7 linked regions of the Homo sapiens genome follow. The protein of the gene in region 1 purifies or fractionates together with the protein of each later gene. This does not show direct contact. Each region holds a gene or a part of one and is shown in the gene's direction. Other genes may lie near its edges.

What was found.
Region 2: the proteins of SLC20A1 (region 1) and NOTCH3 purify together in Homo sapiens (affinity purification with mass spectrometry; 2 studies listed by BioGRID and IntAct, with this or other methods). This does not show direct contact.
Region 3: the proteins of SLC20A1 (region 1) and POM121 purify together in Homo sapiens (affinity purification with mass spectrometry; one large-scale study listed by BioGRID and IntAct). This does not show direct contact.
Region 4: the proteins of SLC20A1 (region 1) and BMPR1A purify together in Homo sapiens (affinity purification with mass spectrometry; 2 studies listed by BioGRID and IntAct, with this or other methods). This does not show direct contact.
Region 5: the proteins of SLC20A1 (region 1) and NDFIP1 purify together in Homo sapiens (affinity purification with mass spectrometry; 2 studies listed by BioGRID and IntAct, with this or other methods). This does not show direct contact.
Region 6: the proteins of SLC20A1 (region 1) and MTX3 purify together in Homo sapiens (affinity purification with mass spectrometry; one large-scale study listed by BioGRID and IntAct). This does not show direct contact.
Region 7: the proteins of SLC20A1 (region 1) and SLC9A1 purify together in Homo sapiens (affinity purification with mass spectrometry; one large-scale study listed by BioGRID and IntAct). This does not show direct contact.

The regions. Positions count from the first base shown.
Region 1 is NC_000002.12:112,652,226-112,656,265, forward strand, and holds part of SLC20A1 (sodium-dependent phosphate transporter 1), read left to right. Parts: intron 1-476; coding exon 477-573; intron 574-4,040. UniProt on the Homo sapiens protein: Sodium-phosphate symporter which preferentially transports the monovalent form of phosphate with a stoichiometry of two sodium ions per phosphate ion. May play a role in extracellular matrix and cartilage calcification as well as in vascular calcification.
Region 2 is NC_000019.10:15,183,633-15,187,672, reverse strand, and holds part of NOTCH3 (neurogenic locus notch homolog protein 3 precursor), read left to right. Parts: intron 1-334; coding exon 335-568; intron 569-684; coding exon 685-795; intron 796-1,993; coding exon 1,994-2,186; intron 2,187-2,264; coding exon 2,265-2,416; intron 2,417-2,653; coding exon 2,654-2,767; intron 2,768-3,222; coding exon 3,223-3,378; intron 3,379-4,040. UniProt on the Homo sapiens protein: Functions as a receptor for membrane-bound ligands Jagged1, Jagged2 and Delta1 to regulate cell-fate determination.
Region 3 is NC_000007.14:72,927,741-72,931,780, forward strand, and holds part of POM121 (nuclear envelope pore membrane protein POM 121), read left to right. Parts: intron 1-644; coding exon 645-725; intron 726-2,199; coding exon 2,200-2,371; intron 2,372-4,040. UniProt on the Homo sapiens protein: Essential component of the nuclear pore complex (NPC). The repeat-containing domain may be involved in anchoring components of the pore complex to the pore membrane. When overexpressed in cells induces the formation of cytoplasmic annulate lamellae (AL).
Region 4 is NC_000010.11:86,913,306-86,917,345, forward strand, and holds part of BMPR1A (bone morphogenetic protein receptor type-1A isoform 3 precursor), read left to right. Parts: intron 1-3,828; coding exon 3,829-4,021; intron 4,022-4,040. UniProt on the Homo sapiens protein: On ligand binding, forms a receptor complex consisting of two type II and two type I transmembrane serine/threonine kinases.
Region 5 is NC_000005.10:142,135,879-142,139,918, forward strand, and holds part of NDFIP1 (NEDD4 family-interacting protein 1), read left to right. Parts: intron 1-1,855; coding exon 1,856-1,980; intron 1,981-4,040. UniProt on the Homo sapiens protein: Activates HECT domain-containing E3 ubiquitin-protein ligases, including NEDD4 and ITCH, and consequently modulates the stability of their targets. As a result, controls many cellular processes.
Region 6 is NC_000005.10:79,984,311-79,988,350, reverse strand, and holds part of MTX3 (metaxin-3), read left to right. Parts: intron 1-35; coding exon 36-112; intron 113-1,243; coding exon 1,244-1,401; intron 1,402-2,691; coding exon 2,692-2,780; intron 2,781-4,040.
Region 7 is NC_000001.11:27,106,268-27,110,307, reverse strand, and holds part of SLC9A1 (sodium/hydrogen exchanger 1), read left to right. Parts: intron 1-530; coding exon 531-781; intron 782-2,442; coding exon 2,443-2,660; intron 2,661-4,040. UniProt on the Homo sapiens protein: Electroneutral Na(+) /H(+) antiporter that extrudes Na(+) in exchange for external protons driven by the inward sodium ion chemical gradient, protecting cells from acidification that occurs from metabolism.

The DNA.
Region 1 (4,040 bases):
GGCATCTTTGTCAGATGTTTAGATAAGATGGTTGGCGTACGCATAGTCTGCATGTTGTATTTTTAGTCTTTGAAGATATGAAGTCAGGTAAGCAACATCCTAACATAGTCTATTTCTTGACATCTCTTACAAACGTAGAGTATAGCCTATCCTCAGGTGTGTGCTGAAGTTTATATTAGGGCTTTTGGGTACCTTAGAATGTGGGTATTGCAATCTTTATTCAGGATGTTATCAGTCACTGGTACAGTTAGTCTTGTTATTAAAAGAAAAAAGAAAAAAAAACAGGTAGAAGTTGGAATTAGCCTTCGTAGGAAGAATTCCAGATGCAAATGCAGGAAAAACTCTGTTGTCCTTGGAAACTACTCTGGAGAGAGTTATTGGCACTATAATTCCCAAACCTACCCTGTTAAAAGATTCTGTGGAAATGGGTTAACCTTTATACCTTTTAAGATATTGATCTTAATGATGTTTTACAGGCAGATCCAGTTCCTAATGGTTTGCGAGCTTTGCCAGTTTTCTATGCCTGCACAGTTGGAATAAACCTCTTTTCCATCATGTATACTGGAGCACCGTGTAAGTACCTATCAAAATATTTAAATGTGAATTTAAAGTTGTTTACAAAACTTGCATTAAATGCCCAATTTACCCCTTTTTGCTTTACAGGGCTGAAATCTCCTAGAAGGTGGCTGGCCTGCGCCCATTTCAGAAGGCTGCAGGCTAGTGTACGCTGAGTTAACCTAGATAGTTTTTCAACCAAAGAGACCTGCTCAGATTCTAAATCACTACAGACCTTTCCTCTTTAGTCTTCACAGGATCCACTGATAATATGATCATCTCCTTCCCTTTCTCCTGTCTATGCTAAAAATGCTGGAATTAATACTGACCTCAACTACTGAAGTCATTAGTTATATCTGATCTTCAGTAATCAGTCATTTAGGACTGGTTTGCTGGATATTCTCATTTTTCTCTCCCAAATGGAGATACTATTGTTTCTAAGTACTAAACTTCCATGAATCTGCTTGAATGAGAAGAGTTGGGATGTTTACCACCTGCTCTAAGTGCACTTGGAAGAAGAAATTCATGCAGCTAAGAGGAAAAATAATTTGTGAGAATATAAAGGTTGAAATGTTGATGACTTTCATGTTTGGGACTAAGGCAAGGCATGGATTAAATTATGGCGCTACAAGTTTAATTTAGCAACAACAAAAGATTGGTAACTTGTAACTGGCAGGACAGTACAGTTTTGGTATCTAGACTCATTTGGCCTGATGGTCTGTGACTACATAGGCAGTGACTTTTATTCTTTATACTGTGACCCACTGGATGAAATACAGGACACACATGTATGTATGTAGAGAGAAAGATAACTGGAATAGTGTCATGAAGCCACTTAATGCTTACTATGTGCTATGCACCCATATTTTCAAATTCTCTCTTTTTTTTTTTCTTAACATTTGTTGTGGCCCACTGAAATGATTTCAGTTTTGAGTAATGGGTTGTGACTTGCTCTTAAACCTCACTGAAGTAGTAAGTTGCTGACCCAAAGTAGAGTTAGCTAAATATTTTTATTATTTATTTATTTTTTTGAGACAGTTTTGCTCTTGTTGCCCAGGCTGGAGTGCAATGGCATGATCTTGGCTCACCACAACCTCTACCTCCCGGGTTCAAGCAATTCTCCTGCTTCAGCCTCCCAAGTAACTGGGATTACAGGCGTGCACCACCAAGCCCGGCTGATTTTGTATTTTTAGTAGAGACGGGGTTTCTCCATGTTGGTCAGGCTGGTCTCCAACTCCTGACCTCAGGTGGTCCGCCTGCCTCAGCCTCCCAAAGTGCTGGGATTACAGACATGATCACCGCACCTCGCCAATATTTTAATTTTTTACCTTATTTTAGATTGAGGGATTATATGTGTATTTTGTTAGATGGAGCTAAGTATTTTTAATCTTGCTAATTAATTCTTGGAATAATCAGGAACGAAACAGACAACTTTAAGAAAATATTGTTCTTACTTAGACTATACTGAACTGCTATGTGCCGGTGAAGAGAAGTTTGTATGCCAGATTTCCATTGTAAACAGTTCTTTGTGATAAACTAAAAAGTCTCCCATGATGCTCTTAACACTCATTCTTTATGTGGTAGAAGCAAAGCTCAGAGATGAGTGAAATTAGAATCATTTTAAAAACAGAAACTTAGATATTTTCGTTGTGTCCTTTATGGATCATTTGTAAGAAAAACCAGTCTCTTTCCTTTTTGACTTGGAATGTAGACCAACTTAAATTGTGATAGACAGTAATTTCATGTATATTTTAGTTTGTGTGACCACATGATCAAAATTGAAAGCAGAATTTAAAATGAAAAGATACATAGTCACCATAGAATTGTAGTTTGGGGCCGGGCGCGGTGGCTCATGCTTGTAATCCCAGCACTTTGGGAGGCCGAGGTGGGTGGATCATGAGGTCAGGAGTTCAAGACCAGCCTGGCCAAGTTGGTGAAACCTCATCTCTACTAAAAACTAGAAAAACTAACCAGGTGCAGTGGCAGGCGCCTGTAATCCCAGCTACTTCGGAGGCTGAGGCAGGAGAATCACTTGAGCCTGGTAGGCGGAGGTTGCAGTGAGCCAAGATCGTGCCACTGTACTCCAGCCTGGGCGACAGAGTGCGATGCTGTCTCAAAAAAAAAAAAAAAAAGTTCAAAAACAAAAAAAGTTTTAGTTTTGAAGGGACCTCAATTTGTTTCTAATTTTTTTTTTTTTTTTTTTTTTGAGACAGAGTCTCGCCCTGTCACTCAGGTTGGAGTGCAGTGGTGCGAACTTGGGTGACTGCAACCACTACCTCCCGGGTTTGAGCGATTCTCCTGCTTCAGCCTCCCGAGTAGCTGGGATTACACATGTGCATCACCACGCCCAGCTAATTTTTGTATTTTTAGTAGATACGTGGTTTCACCGTGTTGGTCAGTCTGGTCTTGAACTCCCAACCTCAGGTGATCCACGGACCTCAGCCTCCCAAAGTGCTGGGATTACAGGCGTGAGCTGCCGCGTCTGGCCTTGTGTCTGATTTTTAAAGATTAATCATTTTGGGGTATGATAGAATTTCCAGTTTATAAGTACAAACAGTCCCTGACTTCATGGTTCAACCTTCAGTTATTTGACTTTTTGATGGGTTTATAGGTACATAACCTCATTGTAAGTTGAGGAGCATCTGTGATTTCGTACATAACAAGCAAAATAAAGCAAAACAAGCAGAAGTAACTAAGCTATTCCTAGATATCAACTACAGATCATTATAATATCTTTTATGGGTTTTTTTTTTTTTTTTTTACCTTTTTTGTTTTTCAGGGATGGGGTCTTGCTGTGTTGCCCAGGCTGGCCTTGTATTCCTGGGCTCAGGGTGTTCTCACACTTCAGTCTCCTGAGTAGCTAGAGATCATTATAACATCTGTTAGATTTAAATAGGATTGTATAGTGCTTTACTTCTTTTCGTTTGTTTTTGTGACGGAGTTTCGCTCTTGTCACCCAGGCTGGCTGGAGTGCAGTGGCACGATCTTGGCTCACTGCAACCTCGACCTCCTGGGTTCAAGTGATTCTCCTGCCTCAGCCTCCCAAGTAGCTGGGATTATAGAAGCCCACCACCACATCCAGCTGATTTTTTTAATTTTCAGTGGAGACGGGGTTTCACCATGTTGGCCAGGCTGGTCTTGAACTCGTGACCTCAGGTGCTCCACCTGTCTCAGCCTCCCAAAGTGCTGGGATTACAGGTGTGAGCCACTGTGCCTGGCCAGTGCTTTACTTCTGTCTTTAGTACAGGCTAATGGTTTGGAGCCTACTGGCGTGCATATGACAGTCAGATAATGACTAATATTACTCATTCTTAAACCATGTGAACAGTGTTGCTAGGCAAGTCTTTTTTTAAGGTAAGACTTGTAAGTGAAATTACCACTAAACTTTGTGTGTGAGAAAGACAAAACTTTTTTTTTTTTTTTTTTTTTTTTTGAGACAAAGTCTGACTTTGTCACCCAGGCTGGAGTGCAGTGGCGCAATCTCA
Region 2 (4,040 bases), on another chromosome or scaffold:
TAACTGAATGGGGAGGGCCCAATACCTTCCCCTGGCACCTGCCATGTGCTCCCATCTCCAGTGGAGGGTGGGGCAGAAACAGGGCTGGAGGTGGGGCCACAGCTGGGGGCGGGATTTAACTGTGGGAGAGTCTTGGCTAGGGACAAATTCTGGAGCTTGTAGTGGGGTGGAGTGGAAGTAAGTGGGGGGTGGGGGGTGGGGCCTGTATTGAGCTCGCCTCCTGACAGCTTGATGGGCAGGGCCTCAGATAGAGCTGAACCAGGATTGGTCCGAGGCCTCACTTGTGGGCAGGCCCCTGGCAAGTGGGCGGAGCCTGACCCTCTTGGCCCCACAGGCTTTGAGGGCACGCTGTGTGATCGCAACGTGGACGACTGCTCCCCTGACCCATGCCACCATGGTCGCTGCGTGGATGGCATCGCCAGCTTCTCATGTGCCTGTGCTCCTGGCTACACGGGCACACGCTGCGAGAGCCAGGTGGACGAATGCCGCAGCCAGCCCTGCCGCCATGGCGGCAAATGCCTAGACCTGGTGGACAAGTACCTCTGCCGCTGCCCTTCTGGGACCACAGGTGGGACCGGGGGCTGGGGCAGAAACAGCACACCTGGAGGGGCACAGAGGGTTTGGGAATGGTGCATCTAGTGGGGCACAGTGGTGGCCACTCCATGCCATGTTCCTGGCCCCTAGGTGTGAACTGCGAAGTGAACATTGACGACTGTGCCAGCAACCCCTGCACCTTTGGAGTCTGCCGTGATGGCATCAACCGCTACGACTGTGTCTGCCAACCTGGCTTCACAGGTGGGCAAGTGGCTGCCATGAGAGGGGGTCCTTAGATCGAGGGTGAAGTCACTCGTCTCTGTGGGCCTGTTTTGCCCGTATCTTTGCAGACTCTTGTCCAACGAGGTTGTCCGTGCTTTGCCCTGAGTCTGTGCTGTCTCATTGGCATAAGGTTGTTTCGAGATTATTCTGCAGGCTGGGCGCGGTGGCTCACGCCTGTAATCCCAGCGCTCTGGGAGGCCAAGGCAAGTGGATCACTTGAGGTCAGGAGTTCGAGACCAGCGTGGCCAACGTTGCGAAGCCCCATCTCTACTAAAAATACAAAAATTAGTCGGGTGTGGTGGTGGGCGCCTGTAGTCCTAGCTACTCGGGAGGCTGAGGCAGGAGAATTGCTTGACCTCAGGAGGCGGAGGCGGCAGTGAGCCAAGATTGTGCCACTGTACTCCAGTCTGGGCGACAGAGTGAGACTTCATTTCAAACACACACACACACACACACACACACACACACACACACACATACAAAAACAAACAAAAAGATTATTCTGGAACATAGATGAAAGTGTCCAAACTCAGTGACTAGGTTATTTCTGAATGGGTCTAAACTAATCCTTAGTGGAAATGAATGTGACTTTGCTAGGTGTGTTGGCTCATGTCTGTAATCCCCCAGCACTTTGGGAGGCTGAGACATGAGGATCACTTGAGCCCAGGAGTTCGAGACTAGCCTGGGCAACATAATGAAACCCTGTCTCTACAAAAAATAAACACACTCCCAAAGCCAGATTAGTCAATACGTAGATAAACACGCACACACATGCACACACAATTAGCCAGACGTGGTGGTGCGCAACTGTAGTCCCAGCCACTCGGGAGGCTGAGGTGGGAGAATCGCTTGAGCCCAGGAAGTGGAGGCTGTGGTGAGCTATGATCATGCCACTGCAGTCCAGCCCGGGCGACAGAGTGAGACCCCATCTCAAAAAATAAGAAGAAGAAGAAAAGAAAAAGAAAGGGACTTCATGGAAGTTTGGGGACCAGAATGATCTGGGGCAAGTCAGCTCTTGGTTGAGGAGGCGGGTGTCCTAATCTGCACAAGAGCTGATGCGTTATGAAAAAGAGGTCATTGCTCGGGGGTGTGGGTGTGCTAAGTGGGGTCACGTCGTCCCTCCCTGGTTGTCCCTGCTGACTTTGTTCTGAGATGAGATTGCTTGTGTACTCCCCAGGGCCCCTTTGTAACGTGGAGATCAATGAGTGTGCTTCCAGCCCATGCGGCGAGGGAGGTTCCTGTGTGGATGGGGAAAATGGCTTCCGCTGCCTCTGCCCGCCTGGCTCCTTGCCCCCACTCTGCCTCCCCCCGAGCCATCCCTGTGCCCATGAGCCCTGCAGTCACGGCATCTGCTATGATGCACCTGGCGGGTGAGGGCCCTTCTCAGCCTCAGACACTGCCCCCTCTCCCTGGCCCACCTCCCTGGCCTGACTACCTTCCCCTGCCAGGTTCCGCTGTGTGTGTGAGCCTGGCTGGAGTGGCCCCCGCTGCAGCCAGAGCCTGGCCCGAGACGCCTGTGAGTCCCAGCCGTGCAGGGCCGGTGGGACATGCAGCAGCGATGGAATGGGTTTCCACTGCACCTGCCCGCCTGGTGTCCAGGGTGTGTACCTCACCTTCCCTCTGCAGCCCCACCAACACCATGGGCCTTCTCATCTCTCTTCTCCTCTACTCTCTCCTCCCGCTATGTTAGCTTCTTTTTTGCTTTCAATCATTTCCCTCCAGGAGCTTGGGAGGTGGGTATCAAGGTGGGGACCCTGGGGTTGGGGGAGGTGGGGGGAGATGGGATCAGGGAGTCCCTCAAGGCTATCTCTGCTTCCCTCTCTTCCACCCCCAACAGGACGTCAGTGTGAACTCCTCTCCCCCTGCACCCCGAACCCCTGTGAGCATGGGGGCCGCTGCGAGTCTGCCCCTGGCCAGCTGCCTGTCTGCTCCTGCCCCCAGGGCTGGCAAGGTATGCCACCTGCTTCTCTTCCCTCCTCCTCTCCATCTCCTCTGCCCCCTACCCTATCAGGGATGATGCTGGGGATCCAGAGAGGGACCCATCCCCAGCCCTGCCTTTGAGAGGGGCTTCCTTCTTGGAAGGACAGAGCTGGACACTGATATGCAGCCTGTGTGGGTCAGCCCTTGGAAGAGGAAGAGTTATGGGGCTAGAGATGCTGGGACTTAGGGCGGGGTTTAGGGTACAGCTTCCTGGAGGAGCAGACCTCATAGTAGGTATTTGCCACCTACTGAGACAGGGAGACGGCCATTCTGAAACTGCATATGCAAAATGCCCAGACACGAATGACAGCACGGCTTATTTTGCCTTCACCCATCTCGGCCTGCAGGTTCTTCCTGAGCCCCAGGTCCCTGAGACCCTGCTCTGTACCCTGTAACCCTAGGTGTAACCTTGCTCCCTACCCCCAGGCCCACGATGCCAGCAGGATGTGGACGAGTGTGCTGGCCCCGCACCCTGTGGCCCTCATGGTATCTGCACCAACCTGGCAGGGAGTTTCAGCTGCACCTGCCATGGAGGGTACACTGGCCCTTCCTGCGATCAGGACATCAATGACTGTGACCCCAGTGAGTGCAGGGGAGCTCTTGGGGGTGCTGCTCTGGGGAACACAGTCATTAAGCTTGAACTGTGTGCCTGGCACTGTGCTGTCATTTCATCTTCACAGTTATCTTACTTTTCCCGTTTTATTTATATGGAAACTGAGGCCCGAGGAGGTTGAGTGACTTCTTGTGCAAGCCCATGGAACGAGTTAGGGAATGAGCTGGGCTTAGAACCTTGGAGTCTGTGTGCTGCCTCTTTTTTTTTTTTTTTTTTTTTTTTTTTTGAGACAGAGTCTTAGCTCTGTCGCTGGAGTGCAGTGTTGCAATCATCGCTCACTGCAACCTCTGCCTTCTGGGCTCAAGCACCTCAGCCTCCCCAGTGGCTGCGACTATAGGCGCACACCACAGCGCCCAGCTAATATTTTGTGTTTTTTGTAGAGACGGAGTTTCGCCATGTTGCCCACGGTGGTCTCCAATTCCTGGGCTCAAGCAATCTACCTGTCTCCACCTCCCAAAGTGCTGGGATTACAGGCGTGAGCAACCACACCCGACCTAAGTGCACTGTCTTTGAGAGCAATCGAGTTAATATCATGTGCAAAGTATGAGATAAAAGGCCCCCCAGAGGCCGGGCGAGGTGGCTCACACCTGTAATCTCAGCACTTTGGGAGGCCAAGGTGGGCGGATCACCT
Region 3 (4,040 bases), on another chromosome or scaffold:
AGCTAATGAAAATGGAATAAATAAATAGTTTTCTAAGTATAGAAAGAAAGGAAGTTGAAGTGGCTGAGCATTTATTGAGCACCCACTGTGTATGGGACCCTACTCCAAGTGCTATGGATAGAGCGGTGGACAAGACAAAATCCCTGCTCTCATGGGACTCTTGAGGGAAACACCATTTTATAAGGCTGGGTGTGGTGCTGCACGCTTGTACTCCTAACACTTTGACAGGCCAAGATGGGAGGATCGCTGGAGCCCAGTTGCTCAAGACCAGCCTGGGCAACATAGTGAGACCTCGCCTCTACAAAAAATTAAGAAATTAGCCAGGTGTGGTGGTGCATACCTGTAGTCCCAGCTACTCTGGAGGCTGAGGCAGGAGAATCGCTTGAACCCAGGAGGCAGAGGTTTGTTGCAGTGAGCCAAGATCGTGCTATTGCACTCCAGCCTGGGCAACAAGAGCGAAACTCTGTCTGAAAAAAAAAAAATTTACCTTTCAGAAGCTTAGGGATTTTAAACAACCATTTTCTGGTCTATCATGGAATCTGTGCTCCATAGAGATAGTATAAGGTCCCAGAAATATGAGAATACACTTTAAAGGGACAAAAAAAGTCATGTCATTTCATTGAGACTTTTTTGATTTGTCGCAGGCGCCATGATAGCAGTGGCAGTGGACATTCAGCATTTGAGCCCCTGGTGGCCAATGGAGTCCCCGCTTCTTTTGTGCCTAAGTAAGTGGGAGTCCATCCGGATGAAATACCAACTGTTTGGAAAAAGGCCTGATCAGAGCTGTTGCCCTATAGATTTTCCTCTTTGTTTTTTGCATTGCTTAATTGGTTCAGGTTCACGTCTTTGAAATTAGGAACGTTTTGAGTAACTTGCCACAGTTAACTGCCTTCTGTCTAATTCCTTTTAATGTTCTTGCATTAATATGGATGAAATATGCTGAGACTTAAGAGGTTTTATAAATATATTTAATAACCAAGCACATACACAGAAGGATTGCAAAGTTTGTGCAGTGGATAAAACAGTATGAAACCTAAATGTTAAATTTCTACATGTCAGTTTAAAAACAAATTGGAGGAAGAATTGGGTGGAAAGGAAAGTGGCTCAAAAGTATGTGTGGAAAGACTTAGGATACCTTAGGTACCTCATCTGAGTCAGCAGTGTGATGTGGCCGCCAGGAAAGCTAAAGTGCTCCTGGTCTGTGCTGTTAGAAGAAAGACTAGAATGAGGCAGGTGGATGGTATTCCTGCCTTCCGTAGTTCTGCTCACTGTCCGTGGAGCACTGTGGTCAGATCAGTGTACTGCACTGCGAGGGAGGATGTACACAAACGGAAATTCATTCCCAGTGAAGCAATGAAGATGTTAAGGAGATTTGCAACAGCCCAAAGGGGTGGTGGTGGATGTTGGGGTTTTGGAGGTATGGAAGTATTAGCCCAGAGGAGAAAAGTCTCAGGGGGAATAAAGAAATAAGTGAGGGAAGGACAATGGTCTCCAAAAAACCAAAGGACTGTCCCTTGAAAGAAGCAAAATAACTTGCTCTGTTTGACTTCAAATAGGATCCGTGGGTGAAAGAGGAAATACACTGTAATCCACTGTAAGAATAAACTGGTTCATGGTTGACGTGGGTCACTCTAGGAGAGAGTTGTCTATATTGTAACAGGTTGGATGACTGTCCTACAGAAAAGATGCGTAGGAGATTTCTGTTTCCATTGGAGGTTTAGTAAAATGATGGGTTCCTCTTAACTCTGATTTTTTTTTAATAGCTTTGTTGAGATATAATTGACATAAAATAGACCGTACTTGTTTAAAGCATGTGACATTTTGACACACATACACCTGTGGAACCATCCCACCACTAAGATAATGAACATCCTTCACCTCCAAAAGTTCCCACATGCCTGTAATCCCTCTCTTTACTTCCACCCCTGTTCCCAGGCATCCACTGATCTGTCTTCTGTCACTGTAGATAGGTATGCATTTTCCAGAATATTCTATAAATGGAAATCATACATTTAAGTTTTAAATATTTGGCTTTTCTTACTGACTTTGTCAGATAGATTTGGCCAGATTGTTAGCAGTAAAAATTAAAAGCATTATTCTCTTCCCTTCATGTTATTAAGAAAGATGTCATGACCGTGGATGAAATCGTAAAAGAATTTTGCCTTCAATAAAGCATCTAACTGTCTTCTCTTTTATTAGGCCTGGGTCTCTGAAGAGAGGCCTCAATTCTCAGAGCTCAGATGACCACTTGAATAAGAGATCCCGAAGCTCTTCCATGAGCTCCTTGACAGGCGCTTACGCAAGTGGCATCCCTAGCTCCAGCCGCAATGCCATTACCAGTTCCTACAGCTCCACTCGAGGCATCTCACAGGTACAAGTACAGCTCTTTTAATGTGGGGGACATGAATTCCCAGCGTTCATTCATTGACTAGGGCCAGACATGGTAGCTTAGCCATGTAATCCCAGCACTTTGGAAGGCCAAAGCGGGAGGATTGCTTGAGCCCAGGAGTTCAAAACCAGCCTGGGCAATATAGTGAAACCTTGTCTGTACAAAAGAATTTTTAAAGAAAATTTTTTAAATAAAGTAATTGATTAGCAAAGGTTTACTGATCACCTTCTATCTGTCAGACATTAGAATTGTCTTTAAGCTAATAGAAAATACAGATCATTGAGTGATCAATATAGGCCAGCGGAATGGAGTAGAAAGCCCAGAATGTACAGCAGTGCATGTGTGCGAGCTGATTCGAGACAGAGCTGTGTTGTAGATAAACGGACAGAGGGTGATTCGAAAGGTAGACTGAGTCCAGCTTGTATTGGGTCGTAAAAGAGATTTATCTTATAGGCGTTTAGAATTGAAAGCGGGGTTTTTAAACAAGTGGTCATGATTTTTTGGAAAAGGGATTATCGCATAGTATAGGGAACAGGGCAGGCTTTGCTGCTGGACAGACTTAGATTCAAATCTTGGCTCTGAGGCTGGGCGGGATGGCTCATGCCTGTAATCCCATCACTTTGGGAGGTCAAGGTGGGAGAACCTCTTGAGTCCAGGAGTTCAAGACTAGCCTGTGCAACAGAGCAAGACTGTGTCTCAAAGAAAAGGAAAAAAATGCTTGGCTCTGACATCTAGTAGCTATAAGGTCTTGGGCAGACAATCACATAACATCTCTTTTTCTTATCTCTGAAGTGCTGTTGCAGTGATTGAGGGTAATATTTAAAAAGCACCTATTACAGTGGCTGTCAGTAAGTGGGTACCCAGTATACAGCAGCCAGACAAAAAGATGTAAAGCATGTATGGAGAAATGTTTTTGAGAGGAGGAAGATTTTGAGACGAGTTCATCAGCCCAGAAGGCTCTGACAGTCATATAAATGAACATTAATGACCGTAATATCATTATCCCTCTTAATAATTTAAGAGGGATAATTAATATTATTTAATATCTAGTTATTATTTTTGATATGCAAACTTTTCCAGCTTTGGACTATGGGTTCCAAACTGGCTCCTGTATCCTTTATTTTGATCCCAGCAGTCTTCGACAGATAGCTTCATTGCTTTTTGCCCACCTTCCCAAAGTCCATTTTTAGCCTATACCGAAGTTGGGTGTTTCTTCAGAAAGCTTTGGTTTCTTCCAGTTAGAACTGTAGAGACTACAGTCTAAGTTTTAGGAGAGATAAGATAGACAGATCCTCTAGAAAGGGGAATATAAATAATTCATAATATTCCAAATTCAAATTTATGATAGTAGGATTTTTTATGTAATTTATTTGATTTTATATTTTTATGTATTACACCAAAAATGTCGGTTTATAATTACTTTGATCCTAGTAACACGCAATTTCTTTTTTTTTTTTTTTGCCGGAGTCTTACTCTTGTCGCCCAGGCTGGAGCACAGTGGTGCGACCTTGACTCACTGCAATCTCCGCTTCCTGAGTTCAAGCGATTCTCCTGCCTCAGCCTCCCAAGTAGTTGAGACTATAGGTGCCCGCCACCATGCCCAGCTAATTTTTGTATTTTTAGTAGAGACGAGATTTCACCATGTTGGCCA
Region 4 (4,040 bases), on another chromosome or scaffold:
TTTTTGAGGGATGAGGTTTCTCCATGTTGGCCAGGCTGGTCTCAAACTCCTGGCCTCAACTGATCCTTCCACCTTGGCTCCTAAAGTGCTGGGATTACAGGTGTGAACCACCGCACCCACCCTGATCTCTAATTTTGAAATTCATCTTATTAAATAACTCTAATTGAATTGGAAAGGTAAAAGTAAAACTGCCTTCATAGGCAGACAACATGATTGTTTACGTAGAAAATCCCAAGAATGGTACAATAAAACTACTGCAGCCAGTAAATGACTTTATCAGGTTGCAGAATACAGAGTCATTGTACAAATACCATTGAATTTATAGGCTCTAGCAACAAACAATTAGGTAATTATAAAAACAGTATTTAAAATAGCATCAAAAACCATGAAATATTTAGAATAAGCCTAACAATTTATGCAAGACCTGCACACTGAAAATTATAAAACATTGCTGAAAGAAATTAATAAAGCCCTAAATAAGTGGAGATGTTTATAAATCTGAGGACTCAGTATTAAGATTTCAGTTTTCCTCAAATTGGTGTGTAATTTCATTCGAATCCAAATGAAAATCAGAGCAAACTTTTATAGCAATTGATGTATATTCTAACATTTATATGGAAATGCAAAGGACTAGAAGAGCCAAAACAATTTTGAAGTAGAAGAACAAAGAGGAATCACTACCTGATTTCTGGACTTACCGTAAAACTCAATAATGATCTCAATTTGGTACTGGCATAAGGATAGATGTATTGATGAATGGAACAGATTATGGAGTTTAGAAAGGAACATGCACTTAATATGGTTAATTGATTAAAAAAAAAAAAACAAAAAGATGCCCAAGTAATTCAATTGGAAAAAGGCAGTCCATTTAACAGATGGTGCAGGAAATATCAGGAATCCATTTACCAAGAAGTTAATCTCAGTCCTTACCTCCTCACTCTATACCAAATTAACTTGAAATGTAGCATAGACCTAAATGTAAAAGTTGAAGTATAAAACCTCTAAAAGAAAATGTCTGAAAAAATTATTCTGACCTTGGGCAGACTTCTTCAGTACATAAAAAACACAAATCATTTTTTTAATGATAAATCAGGCTTTATCAAAATTTAAAACTTCTGCTATTTAGAAGACAAGAAAATGAGAAGACAAGTCACAGATTGGCAAAACAGATCTGATACAGGGTTTTTGTGCAAAATATATAAAGACCTTTTGCAACTCAATAATAAGATAACCCAATTTTTTTAAAAAATGGACAAAAGATTTGAACAGACACTTCCCCAAAGAAGATATAAGAATGGCAAACAAGCACATGAAAAGATGCTCAGCATCAGCAGGGATATACAAATTAAACACAGTAAGATACTACTGCACATCCACTAGTATAGCTAAGACTGATAATATTAAGTGGTGCCAAAGATGTAGATCAACTAGAAATCTCATACATTGCTGGTTGGAATGCAAAATGGTATGGCTATTTTGAAAAATAGTTTGACAATTGCCTGGAAAGTTAAGGGCATACTTTCCGTACAATGAAGCAATCCTTCTGCTAATTATTTACCCAAGAGATATGAAAACTTGTCCACACCAGAGGCCTGAATGTGAATGTTTATAGCAGTTTTATTTATAATAGACATAAACTGGAAACAACCCCAAAGCTCATGAATTGCTAAATGAATAAACAAATGCTGGTACATTCATACAGTGGAATATTACTCATCAGTAAAAAGGAACAACTTCTAACACATGTAGCAGCAACAGTGGGTGAATTTCAAAAGTACTTTATGCTACATGAAAGAAGCCAGACACAAAAGGCTACACAAAAGTGATTCTCCTGCCTCAGCCTCCCAAGTAGCTGGGATTAAGGCATGCACCACCATGCCCAGCTAATTTTTGTATTTTTTTTTAAGTAGAGACAGGGTTTCACCATGTTGGCCAGGCTGGTCTTGAACTCCTGACCTCAGGTGATCCACCCGCCTCGGCCTCCCAAAGTGTTGGGATTACAGGCGTGAGCCACCACGCCTGGCCAAAAAGTGAGAATTTTTTTACGTTATTAAAATATTCTGTATCTTAATTGTGGTATTGGTGATTACATGATATAGATTTGTCCAAGGCTTGTTGAACTTTTCTCAAAAAGGGTACATTTTATATAAATTATACCTCAATAATCTTGACTTAAAAACTTACAGGCTGAGGCAGGCAGATCACTTGAGGTCAGGTGTTCGAGACCAGTCTGGCCAACATGGTGAAACCCTGTCTCTACTAAAAATACAAAAATTAGCTGGACGTGGTGGCAGATGCCTGTAATCCCAGCTGCTCGGGAGGCTGAGGCAGGAAATTGTTTTAACTGGGGAGGCAGAAGTTGCAGTGAGCTGAGATTGGCCGCCGCACTCCAGCCTGAGCAACGGAGCGAGACTCTGTCTCAAAAAAACAGAACAAAATTTACAAAAGGATTCTATAATAAATGATACATAAAGTCACTTTAGCTTTGCACTAAATCTAGTCCATTTTAGAAGCATTTCCAACTTGGAGCATAATGTTCTTTTTAATTTAGAATGATCACTAATGCTTCTGAAAATGAAAGATAACAATCCATGTACATCTTTTATTTAACAAATATTAAAGTACTTCTGATATTGTCCCAAATAAATACTTATATTCTGTGAGCAGGGGATGGAATTCAAGCAAATATATATGTAAATAAGAATAAAGTTATGATTGTGTTAAGCGCAGCAACTGAGAGGTTTTGTGTGCTATGAAGGTGTTTAAGTGAGAAAATAGCACTCTAAGTAAAGGGAACTGGATATTCAAAAAAACCCAGCGACAGGAATAAGCTTGAGTGAATTCTAAAAGTTGAGATAAGTCAAACGAGGTTTGTGGGTGGGTGGTCAAAGCAAATAATGGGACCAGGCCAGATCAGGCAGGGTCTTATAGATGGGATTTTTAAGATCTTTAACTGTTATTTGGACTTTGCTGCATAATAAACCACCCCAAAACTTAGTGATGTGAAGCAACAAACATTATTTCTCATTCTGTGAGTCTGTGGGGCAGTTCATTTGTTGGACTTGCTTAGCTAGAGCTAGGTGGTGTAGTTCACACCCTTGGCCGACAGTTCATGCTGCCATTATTTTTTGGTCACAGGGTTCCCAAAGCAGCAGGAAGGGGGCAAGCCCCAGTCCACAAACATTTGTCAGGTCTTTGCTTGCATCACGTTCGCTGTTGTTCTTTTATCCAAAGCAAGTCATGTGGCCTAAGCCCTGAGTCTGTGGACCAAGACTACCCACGACTGTGTGCACTGGGAGGGTAATTATTATGACCATTTTTGCAAACAGCCAGCCACTTGAATAACCTGTTTATGATTTCAGAATACATTGTACATTGTTTCATACTTTAAAGTACATTATGGCCGGGCATGGTGGCTCACGCCTGTAATCCCAGCATTATGGGAGGCCGGGGGTGGGGTGGATCACCTGAGGTCAGGAGTTCAAGACCAGCCTGGTCAACGTGGCTAAACCCCATCTCTACTAAAAATACAAAAAAATTAGCTGGGCATGGTGGCGGGTGTCTGTAATCCCAGCTACTTGGGAGGCTGAGGCAGGAGAATCACTTGAATCTAAAAGGTGAAGGTTGCAGTGAGCCGAGATCGCGCCACTGCACTCCATCCTGGGTGACAGAGCGAGACTCCATCTCAAAAAAAAAAAAGTACATTATAAGTTTTTAACTGGAGTTGGTTGGGTACACCATGCTTTTTGATGAGATGGACTACCCCTTTGCCAGTCTTAATGGGTTTCTTTCATCAAGAGCTCAAACCTTTTACTTTTTTCTATAAAGGTTCAGCGAACTATTGCCAAACAGATTCAGATGGTCCGGCAAGTTGGTAAAGGCCGATATGGAGAAGTATGGATGGGCAAATGGCGTGGCGAAAAAGTGGCGGTGAAAGTATTCTTTACCACTGAAGAAGCCAGCTGGTTTCGAGAAACAGAAATCTACCAAACTGTGCTAATGCGCCATGAAAACATACTTGGTGGGTACACACTGATTCA
Region 5 (4,040 bases), on another chromosome or scaffold:
AATCTGACTGAATTAAAATAACTAGTTGAGCTAATATATTAATACATTATGTTTATTTGGTGCCTTTTACTGGAATATTCAAAGCTTAATATACCTTTGTTTTAATATCCCTTCTCTTTGCCTTCTATTTTCATGAATATCTGTGGAAAATATAATTAAAGCAGTTATGAGGATGCTGCATTTTTACATGAGCTAAGCCTCATCTTCCAGGTCTACGGGGCCCTTTTGCGTTGCTTCTACTCATACTTAATCTGTAGAATAGGAATTAAATGCCTTTGATGAATTTTGCTCTGAAAGCTTCTTTTTTCTGACAGATCAAAGTCAGCCTGATTTTCTCCCTTCATGTTACTTGCCATTTATCTTTTTGTGTGCCTCACATAGAAGTGAGCAACCATTTCCTTTATTTGTTGTATTAGAAAGATAAGAAAATGCAATGCTTTTAGAGGTGATGTTATATAAGTTGTCAAAATTCAGAGAACAGGAGGATGAGTGACTTGAATCAGATTATTTGGGGGCACTTATTTAATGTTGAAGGCATTTATTTTATTTACTGGACTATATATATATAACACACACAGTAAAAAGCAGAGGTCAGGCTGGGCATGGTGGCTCATGCCTATAATCCCAGCACTTTGGGAGGCCGAGGCAGGCAGATGCCCTGAGGTCAGGAGTTCGAGACCAGCCTGGCCACCATGGTGAAACCCCATCTCTACTAAAAATACAAAAATTAGCTGGGTGTGGTGGCAGGCACCTGTAATCCCAGCTACTCAGGAGGCTGAGGCAGGAGAATCGATTGAACCCGGGAGGCAGAGGTTGCCGTGAGGTGAGATCGCACCATTGCACTCTAGCCTGGGGGACAAGAGTGAGACTTCGTCTCAAAAAAAAAAAAAAAAAAAGAGGTCAAAGGCTGGGCACAGTGGCTCATGCCTGTAATCCCAGCACTTTGGAAGGCTGAGGTGGGCGAATCACCTGGGGCTAGAGGTTCAAGACCAACCTGGCCAACATGGAGAAACCCCATCTCTACTAAAAACAAAAATTAGCCGTTAGCCGGGCCTGGCGGTGCACGCCTATAGTCCCAGCCACTCGGGAGGCTGAGGCAGGAGAATCACTTGAACCTGGGAGGCAGAGATTGCAGTGAGCCAAGGTCGTGCTACTGCACTCCAGCCTGGGTGACAGAGTGAGACTCAGTCTCAAAAAAAAAAAAAAAAAAAAAAGCAGAGGTTGTAAGTATACAGTTTGGTGAATGTTAAGGTTTGCTTTTTGCTGTTTTTTGTTTTTTTTGCTTTTTCCTTTTGAGACAAGGTCTTGCTCTGTTGCCCAGGCTGAATTTGGAGTGCAGTGGTGTGATCACTTCTCAGTGTACCCTTGACTTCCTGGGCTCAAGTGATCCCCCCACCTCAGCCTCCCAAGTAGCTGGGACTTGCAGGTGTGCACCACTGTGCCCGGCTTTTGTTTGTTTGTTTGTTTGTTTTGTTTTTTTCAGTTTTTGTAGAGATGGGTCTCACTGTGGTGCTCAGGCTGGTCTCAAACTGCTGGGCTCGGGATCCTCCAACGTTGGCCTCCCAAAGTGCTAGGATTACAGATGTGAGCTATTGTGCTCAGCCTATTAAGGCGTTTTTGAAAGTGACTAGCAGTAGACATAAGTGTGTAAAACCTGATAGGGAGGAGTTTTTCTTGTTTGCTTTTTGGGGAAAGACAGAAGAATGGATGTTTTAGAGGAGGTATGGTGACGGTTGTGGAGGACAGGCTGTCTTTTATCCTTTGGAAAGTCATTTAAACAGAGGCAGGTGTAAGGCACTCTTGTTCTTGGGTAACAGGACATGTCTAACATCTTTCCCCTCCTCTGCTTTTGCAGTGGCATTCCTCTTTAACTGGATTGGGTTTTTCCTGTCTTTTTGCCTGACCACTTCAGCTGCAGGAAGGTATGGGGCCATTTCAGGATTTGGTCTCTCTCTAATTAAATGGATCCTGATTGTCAGGGTAAGTTGTATAACAGAAAAGATGGGCTCTACAGAGAGGCAATAATCAGAATATTTTTGAATATTCGATTTTTCATTTGCTTTTTTAAAAGTTATTTCAGTGTGTTAAATGATTTTTGGTTTGTCTGTGGTTTCATGATGAAGCTGAACCAAAATCATTTGCAAATGGTTCATGCACACAAGTTTTGTTGTCAAATCTATTGAAAACTGGTCTATCATTAATATTGTTCACCATCTGCTTTGTTTGTTTTTAATGTTTATAATATGATAATGTATATGTTCTGAAATTAGTTGTTTTTATAATAAAAGGAAGGATATTACCCCTTTGATATCTCATCAAAAGCAGCCATTCCTCTCATTAATTCTGTTACAGTTTTAATCTAGCTCTCTTCTTCCTTCTTTTCTTTTCTCCTTCTCTTCCCCTCTCCCTTCCAGGATTGCTTATGCCAAAATGTTTGGGGAGCCAAAACTGTTTAACAAGTATTGCTCCATTAGGAGCCTACCTCTCAAGTAAATTACAGAGATGTATGTCTTTAGTGACTTCAGAGTTACCAGTTAGTTAAATTTGCATGAAGTAATTTACAGTTGTAAAAGATCTAGGCTTTTAAAGTATCCTCTGATTTCAGATAAATTTATTGCTATCGTCAACCTTATAAACAAAACCAATTTATCCGTCATAAATTGGCATACTTAACTAACTAATGGGTGTTGCTTGACCACTGTAGTTTTTCTACGTAGTGCCACCTTATTTATTATAAAACATTTGTTAACGTTTTTAGGGTTCCAGAATCCTTTGGGAATCTGATGAAAGTTGTAAGCTTTTCCCCCACATAGCTAATATGTACTCATCTATAATAATGGACTTTAGGTTAAGAACTCGAGCCCTAAAGAGGTTTTCATTCCTTCCCTAAATTTTAATTGTTACTTTATTAACAAAGAAAATACTATATTTTACTTTTCGAACTACATTAAACTCTTGGACACCAAAGCCTCCAAGGAAAAGAGAAATAAAATTAATTCCAGTCTTTTTTTTTTTTCAAACTAAATTTTCAACTGCATTTAAAAAGTGAATCAAATGGGCCGGGTGCGGTGGCTCACGCCTGTAATCCCAGCACTTTGGGAGGCCGAGGCGGACAGATCACGAAGTCAGGAGATCGAGACCATCCTGGCTAACATGGTGAAACCCCGTCTCTACTAAAAAAATACAAAAAAAATAGCCAGACATGGTAGCGGGGGCCTGTAGTCCCAGCTACTCGGGAGGCTGAGGAAGGAGAATGGCGTGAACCCAGGAGGTGGAGCTTACAGTGAGCCGAGATCGTGCCACTGCACTCCAGCCTGGGCGACAGAGCGAGACTCCTTCTCAAAAAAAAAAAAAAAGTTAAATGAATTAACTTGTATCAGGTAGGATGCTTTTGACTGTGAGTAACAAAAACCTAGCTCAAAATGGCTTAGAAAAAAATTTTTAATTGTTTTTTTAAACGGGGAAATTTTATTTCCCCTGAAAACAAGTCCCTGACAAGGTTAGTTAAGTCAGTGGTTCTTTGACATCATCAAGGACAGCTGACATATCAGCATATTGGCACAGGTCCCCCCTCCCCTCAGGGTTAAAAGATGGCAGTTTCACGTATCAGTATTACATTGAAACACGACAGTGCTCAAGAGAAGAAAAAGAACTATTTAAAAAAAAATTTTCTACCACCTTTAGAAAGAACTGTTTTTTTCTTTGAGAAGCAAGGAAAGCTTCTCAGAAGCCCTCAATTTCCACTGGTCAGAATGGCATCCTGTGCCCATTCCTAAACCAGCAAGGGAAGGGGATTACCCTGGTATACATGATAAAGCTTCCAAAGTCAAGACAAGGCTGGAGGAGTAGGAAGAAAATCAGGCCTCATTAGAAAGAAGGCAATGGTATCATCTACTCAGGAGGCTGAGGTGAGAGGATTGCTTGAGCCCAGGAGTTCAAATGCAGCCTGGACAACATAGTGAGATCCTGTCTCTTAAAATTAATAATAATAATAATTGCTTTTGGCACTGAATAGGCAAAGTAAAACGATCATTATTGAA
Region 6 (4,040 bases), on another chromosome or scaffold:
TTTCTACTTTTGAGATATAATTTCATCCTTATTAGATATACAGAGATGCCAAGGAGTGCCTAAATCTTCTATCAAACAGATTGGGAACATCTCAGTTTTTCTTTGGAGATACGTGAGTATTCCCTTAAAAATCATTTTGGTATTTTGTGCACATATATTCAGTGAGCAGCTATTTAAAGCAAGTCCTCTTATCTCCCCAAAAGATGAGTTTTTTACTTAAAAAAAACAAGATTTAGGCCGGTGTGGTGGCTCATACCTGTAATCACAGCACTTTGGGAGGCCGAGTTGGGCAGATCACCCGAGGCCAGAAGTTCAAGACCAACCTGCCCAACATGGCGAAACCCCATCTCTACTAAAAATACAAAAAATTAGCTGCGTGTGGTGGTGGGCACCTGTAATCCCAGCTACTTGGGAGGCTGAGGCAGGAGAATCGCTTGAACCTGGGAGGTGGAGGTTGCAGTGAGCTGAGATCACGCCACTGCACTCCAGCCTGGGTGACAAGAGTGAAACTCCATGTCAAAAAACCAAAACAAACAAGAAAAAAATTTAATGGGCTTTTATTATAGGAAACTTTTTCTACCAGTGATAATCTAACATTGACTTAATAGGCTGCATATGTGAATTTAAAACATCTCAGACTGTTCCCACTCTGCCTCCAGTCTAACATTTGTGAGTAAAAATGAATCTATAAAGACAATTTCATTTTCTCCTAGAGTCTAAGCTACTCAATGAGTAAAACCTTGGTTGCATAATTTTTGTAAACTGAAATGGATAGTAAACCTTTTAAGAGACTATACTGTGTAATTCAGAATTGAGAATTTTGAAAAAAAAATTAAACACCATCCCAAGTTAGTATTTTCTTATGTGCTTAAAAAAATCCTTAATTTAATTTTTTTTTTTTTTTTTTTTTGAGATGGAGTCTTGCTCTTGTTGCCCAGGCTAGAGTGCAGTGGCATGATCTTGGCTCATTGCAACCTCCGCCTCCTGGGTTCAAGCAATTCTCCTGCCTCAACCTCCCAAGTAGCTGGGTTTACAGGTGCCCACCACCACGCCCGACTTCTTTTGTATTTTTAGTAGAGACAGGGTTTCACCATGTTGGCCAGGCTTATCTGGAACTCCTGACCTCAAGTGATCTGCCCCCGCTTGATCTCCCAAAGTACTGGGATTACAGGCATGAGCCACCACACCCGGCCTTCAGTTAATATTGTCTTATGTGCTTTAAAAATCCTTAATTTATTTCTAGGCCTTCTACCTTGGATGCCTATGTTTTTGGTTTTCTTGCACCTCTTTACAAAGTACGGTTTCCTAAAGTTCAGCTACAAGAACATCTGAAACAGCTCTCCAACCTCTGTCGCTTTTGTGATGACATCCTGAGCAGTTATTTTAGGCTTAGTCTTGGAGGTAAGCTGGCTCTTTTTCAGCTAATGTTTGTTTGCATATTCTCCTATGTATGTATAAGCAAAATCCACTACTTATTTTAATTTTAGAAGTTTGTGTATTGTCTTTAAATAGTGGTTTATAGCACTTCAAGGATTTGTGTTTTTCCGACTTCATTTTTATTCTCATGTTAGTTCTTATTTAAATAGATAAATAGATATTTGCCTTTTATCTATTCCGCTGGATTTTTACGTTTCTTCTTCTTGTTCTTTAAATATTACCCCTTTGAAGTGGGTCATTTTCTTCTAAAAGGTTAAAACCACAGGTATTAAGTCTTTGCTGAAAAACAGTATTTATCCTAATGCAAATGGACAATTACTTTAAATGATTTTTACCTGCTGCTTCTAGCATTTTCCTGCATGAACAGAAATCAGCAGCAGATTGATTTTGGTGAGGTACACTGCCATGATTCCACTACTTGAAAACTGATTGCATCAGAATGGAAGTATAGTAAATAGAGGGCACCTGTTACTTAGGATGTGCTTCATTGAGAGAGTGGAGCCTTGTGCTTAAGTGATTCAGATACTAAATTTCTATTGGGATGGTTGGCTGAAATTGTCCTTTTAAGAAACAGGTTATAAAGATAGCTGGCTTAGGTGGACAGTTTATTATTTTTTGGTGGGTTATGTATTCTGTATACAGGAAGGGGTTAGTAGTTTGGGAGTCATGAAATTAAGTAATGTTCAACCGTGTTAACTTGGGAGCAGTGGTTAGCAAACCTGATTATTTGACAGATAAAAAATCTTGGGTCCTATTCCAGACTTACTAAATTAGAATCTTTTAGGCATCAATCCTAGGAATTTGTATTTTTAAGTTCTTCTGAATACTTTGGATGTCTGGTGGGCAACTTTTTGGGAGTTACTGCCTTAGAAAACTATCCAGATAGTTGTGACCAAAGACCTATTTGAAATGGGTGTGAGAAAGGAATAGCTTAAACTTGAGAAGGAAATGAGGACTACTGTGCTTTTTTTTTCAAAAAAAAAAAAAAACTAATTATTGTGGCCAATTGCAGAACACTTGGTTAGCAGTGTCTACTTAGTGGATAAATTTTTGTCCGTTTTGCTCAGGGTTTAGTTTTAGAGCATTCGAATCCCTCTCTTCGCCTTTAAACCCAGAATGGTTTTCCTCTTTGCCTTTTTTGGGGAGGGTGGGGCACTGGACAGGGTGGGTAGACTCAAAATTCTTTCAATCTAAATAGCTTTAAAGGCTTTAAAAATTTCCTGTCTTTCTCTGATTTCTGTCCTGGCTTCTTAGGCATCTCTCCAGCTGGACAAGAAACGGTAGATGCAAATCTGCAGAAACTCACACAACTTGTAAATAAGGAATCCAACTTGATTGAAAAGGTCAAGTCTACTTCAATCATTTTATCATAGTTCAGTATTTTCCTTTCGGTAGCTAATATTGTCATTTGGGTCACACATTAACTGTACCCTTTTAGTTTTTTTTATAGAGTTTGTTTTTCAGAAAACTGTTTAAATATACTTTCACTAAAGTTGTATGTAACATAGTGTTTTGAAGCCAACAGTGGCCTGATTGGGGAAAGATCAGATAAGAGTATTGGGTTTACTTTTGCCACACAGTTAGTACCCTTTAAGCTAGGAAATCCAAAAGATTTGCTTTAAAAAAACAAAGCGGCCGGGCGCGGTGGGTCACTCCTGTAATCCCAGCTCTTTGGGAGGCCGAGGCGGGCAGATCATGAGGTCATGAGATCGAGACCATCCTGGCTTATACGGCGAAACCCCGTCTCTACTAAAAATACAAAAAATTAGCCGGGCATGGTGGCGGGCGCCTGTAGTCCCAGCTACTCAGGAGGCTGAGGCAGGAGAATGGCATGAACCCGGGAGGCGGAGCTTGCAGTGAGCTGAGATCGTGCCACTGCACTCCAGCCTGGGCAACGGAGCGAGACTCCATCAGAAAAAACACAAAAAAAAACAAAGCAAAAACACTTCTTGCTTGTGTGTCTGCCTCTCTGTCTCTTAATGTTTCTTAAGATTGTAAGCACTGGGCTTATCCTTTCTTATTAACAGCACCGTGTTCTTTTCTTCTTTCCACATGAAAGTTTTATTTTTTTCTCCTTCTTGTTCTTCTCTGCTCTAGATATAGTTTATAGTTTTTTCACCAGTGTAGATATTTTGCCACTTGGGGTGTTCTTTTCATGAGAGAAACATTGAGGAACTGGGTAGGGGAGAGAACCAACAAAGGAAATTTCAAGTGTGATTCTACTAGGAAAAATACAAAGAGGTTACATATTTTTTCCCCTGTAACTGATAAGCTTGCTTTTTTTTTTTTTCCTGATACAAATAGTAATACTTACTATTTTACAAACTCATAGGGCAATGAGGCCTGATGACACTGGCTAACAGTTTTTGAGGTCCACCACTGTGTTATTTGAGCTTGATGTGGGTTACCTCATTTAGAAGTGATCCAGTGTTTGGAAAACCACTGGATTACATTTAAAGAATTTATCTTTCTTTTTGCCTAATGTACTAGCTTCCTTTGGTCTACATATTCTCAGTTTTAAAAAGCTGGTCTTTTTTGATTGGAATACAGGTCATTTTCATTGAGGTAAAGAAGTATAGTTGAAAGAATAATAGTTTTGGAAT
Region 7 (4,040 bases), on another chromosome or scaffold:
CTTTTTTGTGCTGAAGGAGGGACTGAAACCCAGTGATGGGCATGACGTGCCCAAGGTCAGGCAGTGAGAGGCAGACTTGATAGCACCAGATGTGGCTAACACTGCATCAGGTAAGGCTCCGAGCACTTGATTCGCTGATTTAGTCCTCACAGCAGTCCTAAGATTTGGTATTATTATCCTCATTTTATAGACAGGAAAACTGAAACACAGGGAGATGAATTTGCTTCCTGTACACAACTCAGGAGTGGCAGAGCCAGGATTCCAGTCCAGGCAGTTTGGCTTCAGGGTCTTCACAGAGCTTCCCAGGGCCCACCCTTCACCAGTGGGGCACGTGGCTGGCCCAGAGCAAGCCCCTCAGCCCCAGGCTGAGGTTTTGAGCACCTGCTTGGCACTAGGGTTTCTCTGCTACCGTGTGGCCTCTTCTTGTGGCCATGGTTAACGGAGGGGACAGGATTGCCCTGGGTGGACCCCAGGGAACCGTGGGGCCAGGGCCCTCTCCTCCCACCCACCAGCCTGCACACCCTCCCCAGGTCCTGTATCACCTCTTTGAGGAGTTTGCCAACTACGAACACGTGGGCATCGTGGACATCTTCCTCGGCTTCCTGAGCTTCTTCGTGGTGGCCCTGGGCGGGGTGCTTGTGGGCGTGGTCTACGGGGTCATCGCAGCCTTCACCTCCCGATTTACCTCCCACATCCGGGTCATCGAGCCGCTCTTCGTCTTCCTCTACAGCTACATGGCCTACTTGTCAGCCGAGCTCTTCCACCTGTCAGGCATCATGGCGTGAGTCTGCGTGCAGCAGGCAGTGGGCTTGGCGGGGTGGGGGCGGGGGCTGCCAGCTTGGATTCCCCAGGCTCGTAGGTTCACGGAGCTCCCAGGGCCCAGCCTTGAGCTCCAGGGATGAGACATGAACTCCAGGCTCCAGACCTGCTTGGTAGCCATTTAAATGGCCAAGGGCATCAGTGGCTTCCTAGAAGAGGAGCACTTCTGCAGCGCCCCCTGGGGTCCAGGAATCGGGAGAGGGCATTTCAGGCTATGAGCAGATGAAGCAAGAATGACCTGCATGAAGGCAAGCCCAGGGTATAGGAGAGCAGAGCCTTGGAAGCCACTAAGCTTCAGGTTGAGGAAAGCCACAGCCCTGCTACTTCATTGTCTCAAAGGGAGTCCCCTCAGCAGCCCCAGTAGGAGGCTCACCAGGCCTGAGTCCTGGCGGTCCTGAGGTCTCCACCGGGTCTGGAAATGGGGAGAATGGGATGTGGGGAGGCAGTGAGGGGTGAAGGTGTTCCAGTGCCGAGCAAGGCAGAACTGGGGTTCAGAGCCCCTGGCTCCCAGGAGCAGAGCCCGGGTGTGAGCACTGGGCTGGGAGGACTCCGAGCTCCAAGCAGCTGCTTGGAACAAAGCTCCCTGTGGAGACCCCTGTGTAATGGCAGATGCCACGCTTGAGGGGAATGAACCCAGGAGACCATGGGTCTGTGTCATTGACTCCTATTGGGTCAAGAGGCAGTGTGGCCTTGGGGCAAAGGTGCAGGCTTTGGAGTTGGACACTGTGGTTTGTGTGTCTTGGCTTTGCTGCCTGCAGGCAGCGTGACAGGGGAGAGGTGACTATTTCTCTTAGAGTCAGATCTCTCATTTTTTTATTTGAGACGGGGTCCCACTCTTGTCACCCAGGCTGGAATGCAGTGGCACGATCTCAGCTCATTGCAGCCTCTGAGTTCGAGATTCTCCCACTTCAACCTCTCAATTAGGTGGGATTACAGGTGCCCACCACCACACCTGGCTAATTTTTGTATTTTTAGAAGAGACTGCATTTCACTACATTGGCCAAGCTGGTCTCGAATACCTGGCCTCAAGTGATCCGCCTTTGTCGGCCTCCCAAAGTGCTGGGATTACAGGCGTGAGCCACCGTGCCCAGCCAAGATCACTCATTTTAAAAATGGAGGAATAGGGCCGGGCATGCGCTCGTCGCCTGTAATCCCAGCACTTTGGGAGGCCAAGGCGGGTGGATTACAAGGTCAGGAGTTCAAGACCAGCCTGGCCAAGATGGTGAAACCCCGTCTCTACTAAAAATACAAAAAAATTAGCCAGGCGTGGTGGCGGGCACCTGTATTCCCAGCCACTCGGGAGGCTGAGGCAGAGAATTGCTTGAACCCGGGAGGCGGAGGTTGCAGTGAGCCAAGATCGCGCCACTGCTCTCCAGCCTGGGTGACAGAGTGAGACTCGTCTCAAAAAAAAAAAAAAAAAAAAAAATGGAGGAATACACCGTGTCTATAGGGTTGATGTGAGGATGAGTGGCAAGAGGGTGTAAAGCACACAGCGGGCCCCTGGCCCATAGAGGAGCTTGGGACATGGGCACCTTGGTCGTGGCCCCATTGCCCCTGGCAGTGGAGGGGCTCGAGCAGGTGCAGCTCGACACGGAGCCCTGACCCCGCTCTTTCCTGCTCCAGGCTCATAGCCTCAGGAGTGGTGATGCGCCCCTATGTGGAGGCCAACATCTCCCACAAGTCCCACACCACCATCAAATACTTCCTGAAGATGTGGAGCAGCGTCAGCGAGACCCTCATCTTCATCTTCCTCGGCGTCTCCACGGTGGCCGGCTCCCACCACTGGAACTGGACCTTCGTCATCAGCACCCTGCTCTTCTGCCTCATCGCCCGCGTGCTGGGTGAGGGCCAGGGCTGGGGCGGGGTGGGGGTTGTGGTGTGGGGTGTGTGTGGGGGGTGGTGGGCTGTGGTGCTGTGTGTGTGGTGTGTGCAGTGCACTATGTGGAAGGGCCAGGCTATGTGGTGTGTGCATGTGGTGCAGTGTATAAGTATTGTGTGGAGGGGCTGGGCTGTGGTGTGTGTGTGTATGCGTATTGCGTGTGTGGTGTGTGTAGTGCATTGTAGGGGGGCTGGATGTGTGTATGGTGTGTGTGTAGTGTGTGGAGGGGTTGGGGGTGTGTGTGTGTAGTATGTTGTGTGGAGGGCTTTGTATATATGTGTGTGTTGTGTGGAGGGATTGGGCTGTGGTGCAGTGTGTGTATAGTTGTGTGGAGGGGCTGGGTGTATATGTGGAAGGGCTGGGTGTGTGTGTAGGGGTTGGGTGTGTGTAGAGGGGCTGGGTGTGTGTGTGTGTGTGTGGAGGGGCTGTGAGGGTGTGGGTGTGTGTGGAGGGGCTGTGAGGGTGTGGGTGTGTGTGTGTAGAGGGCCTGGGTGTGTGTGTGTGTGTGTGGAGGGGCTGGGGGTATATGTGTGATGCAGTTTGTGGTGGAGGTTTCCTGGTTGGCTCCTGCCTGCTCCCAGCACAGCTAGACAGGAGGGACTTCCCATTTCCATGATGGGCCCTTCAGCAGGGAGAAGCCTGTGTCACAGCAAGGCTGTGGTCTCTGGGGACAGAGTCAGGCTGTGTCAAAGTGAGGGGGCCCTGAGACTCTGAGCCTGTGGCTGTGGCTGTCCTGATGAGGGGCCTGAGGCCCACAGAACCCAGGTCTGTGACTCTGAGCTGAGTGCTCTCTGCACTGTCTCAAGACAGGTGACGTGAGCATGTGCCGAATCGCATGCAGAGCCACGTGCAGTCCTCCAAACCTATGCAGCAGGCCGGGGCACACGTGGGGACCAGGCCCCAGGTGCATGGGTTCCACTCACATGTGCCCCACATGCCTCACCCCAGTGCCTCAGTCGCCTCCTCCCTGGATCTCTCACTTCCTCTCTGAGGGTTAGGTCCATGTCCCCAAGCCTGGCAGGACCTCACATTTATTTGGTGCACTTTTGAAATCCCCTTTATTCCTGAGCCTCATCCTCCAGGGATTCTGGTTCTGTGGGTGGAGGTTGGGCCCAGCCCTCTGCATTTTTTATGCTTTATTATGGAAAATTTCAAGTACTTAGAAAAGTAGAGAGAATAGGATCATGACCCCCCACACACCCATCACATTTAACAAGTATTGACCTGTGACCCATCTTGTTTGATCTTTTCTCCCTCTTCCTGCCCCCAGCCCTCCAGCCACTGGAGGCCTCCATGATGTCTCTAAAGCACATCCAGGTTGGGGAAGTCCTTTAAGGATCCA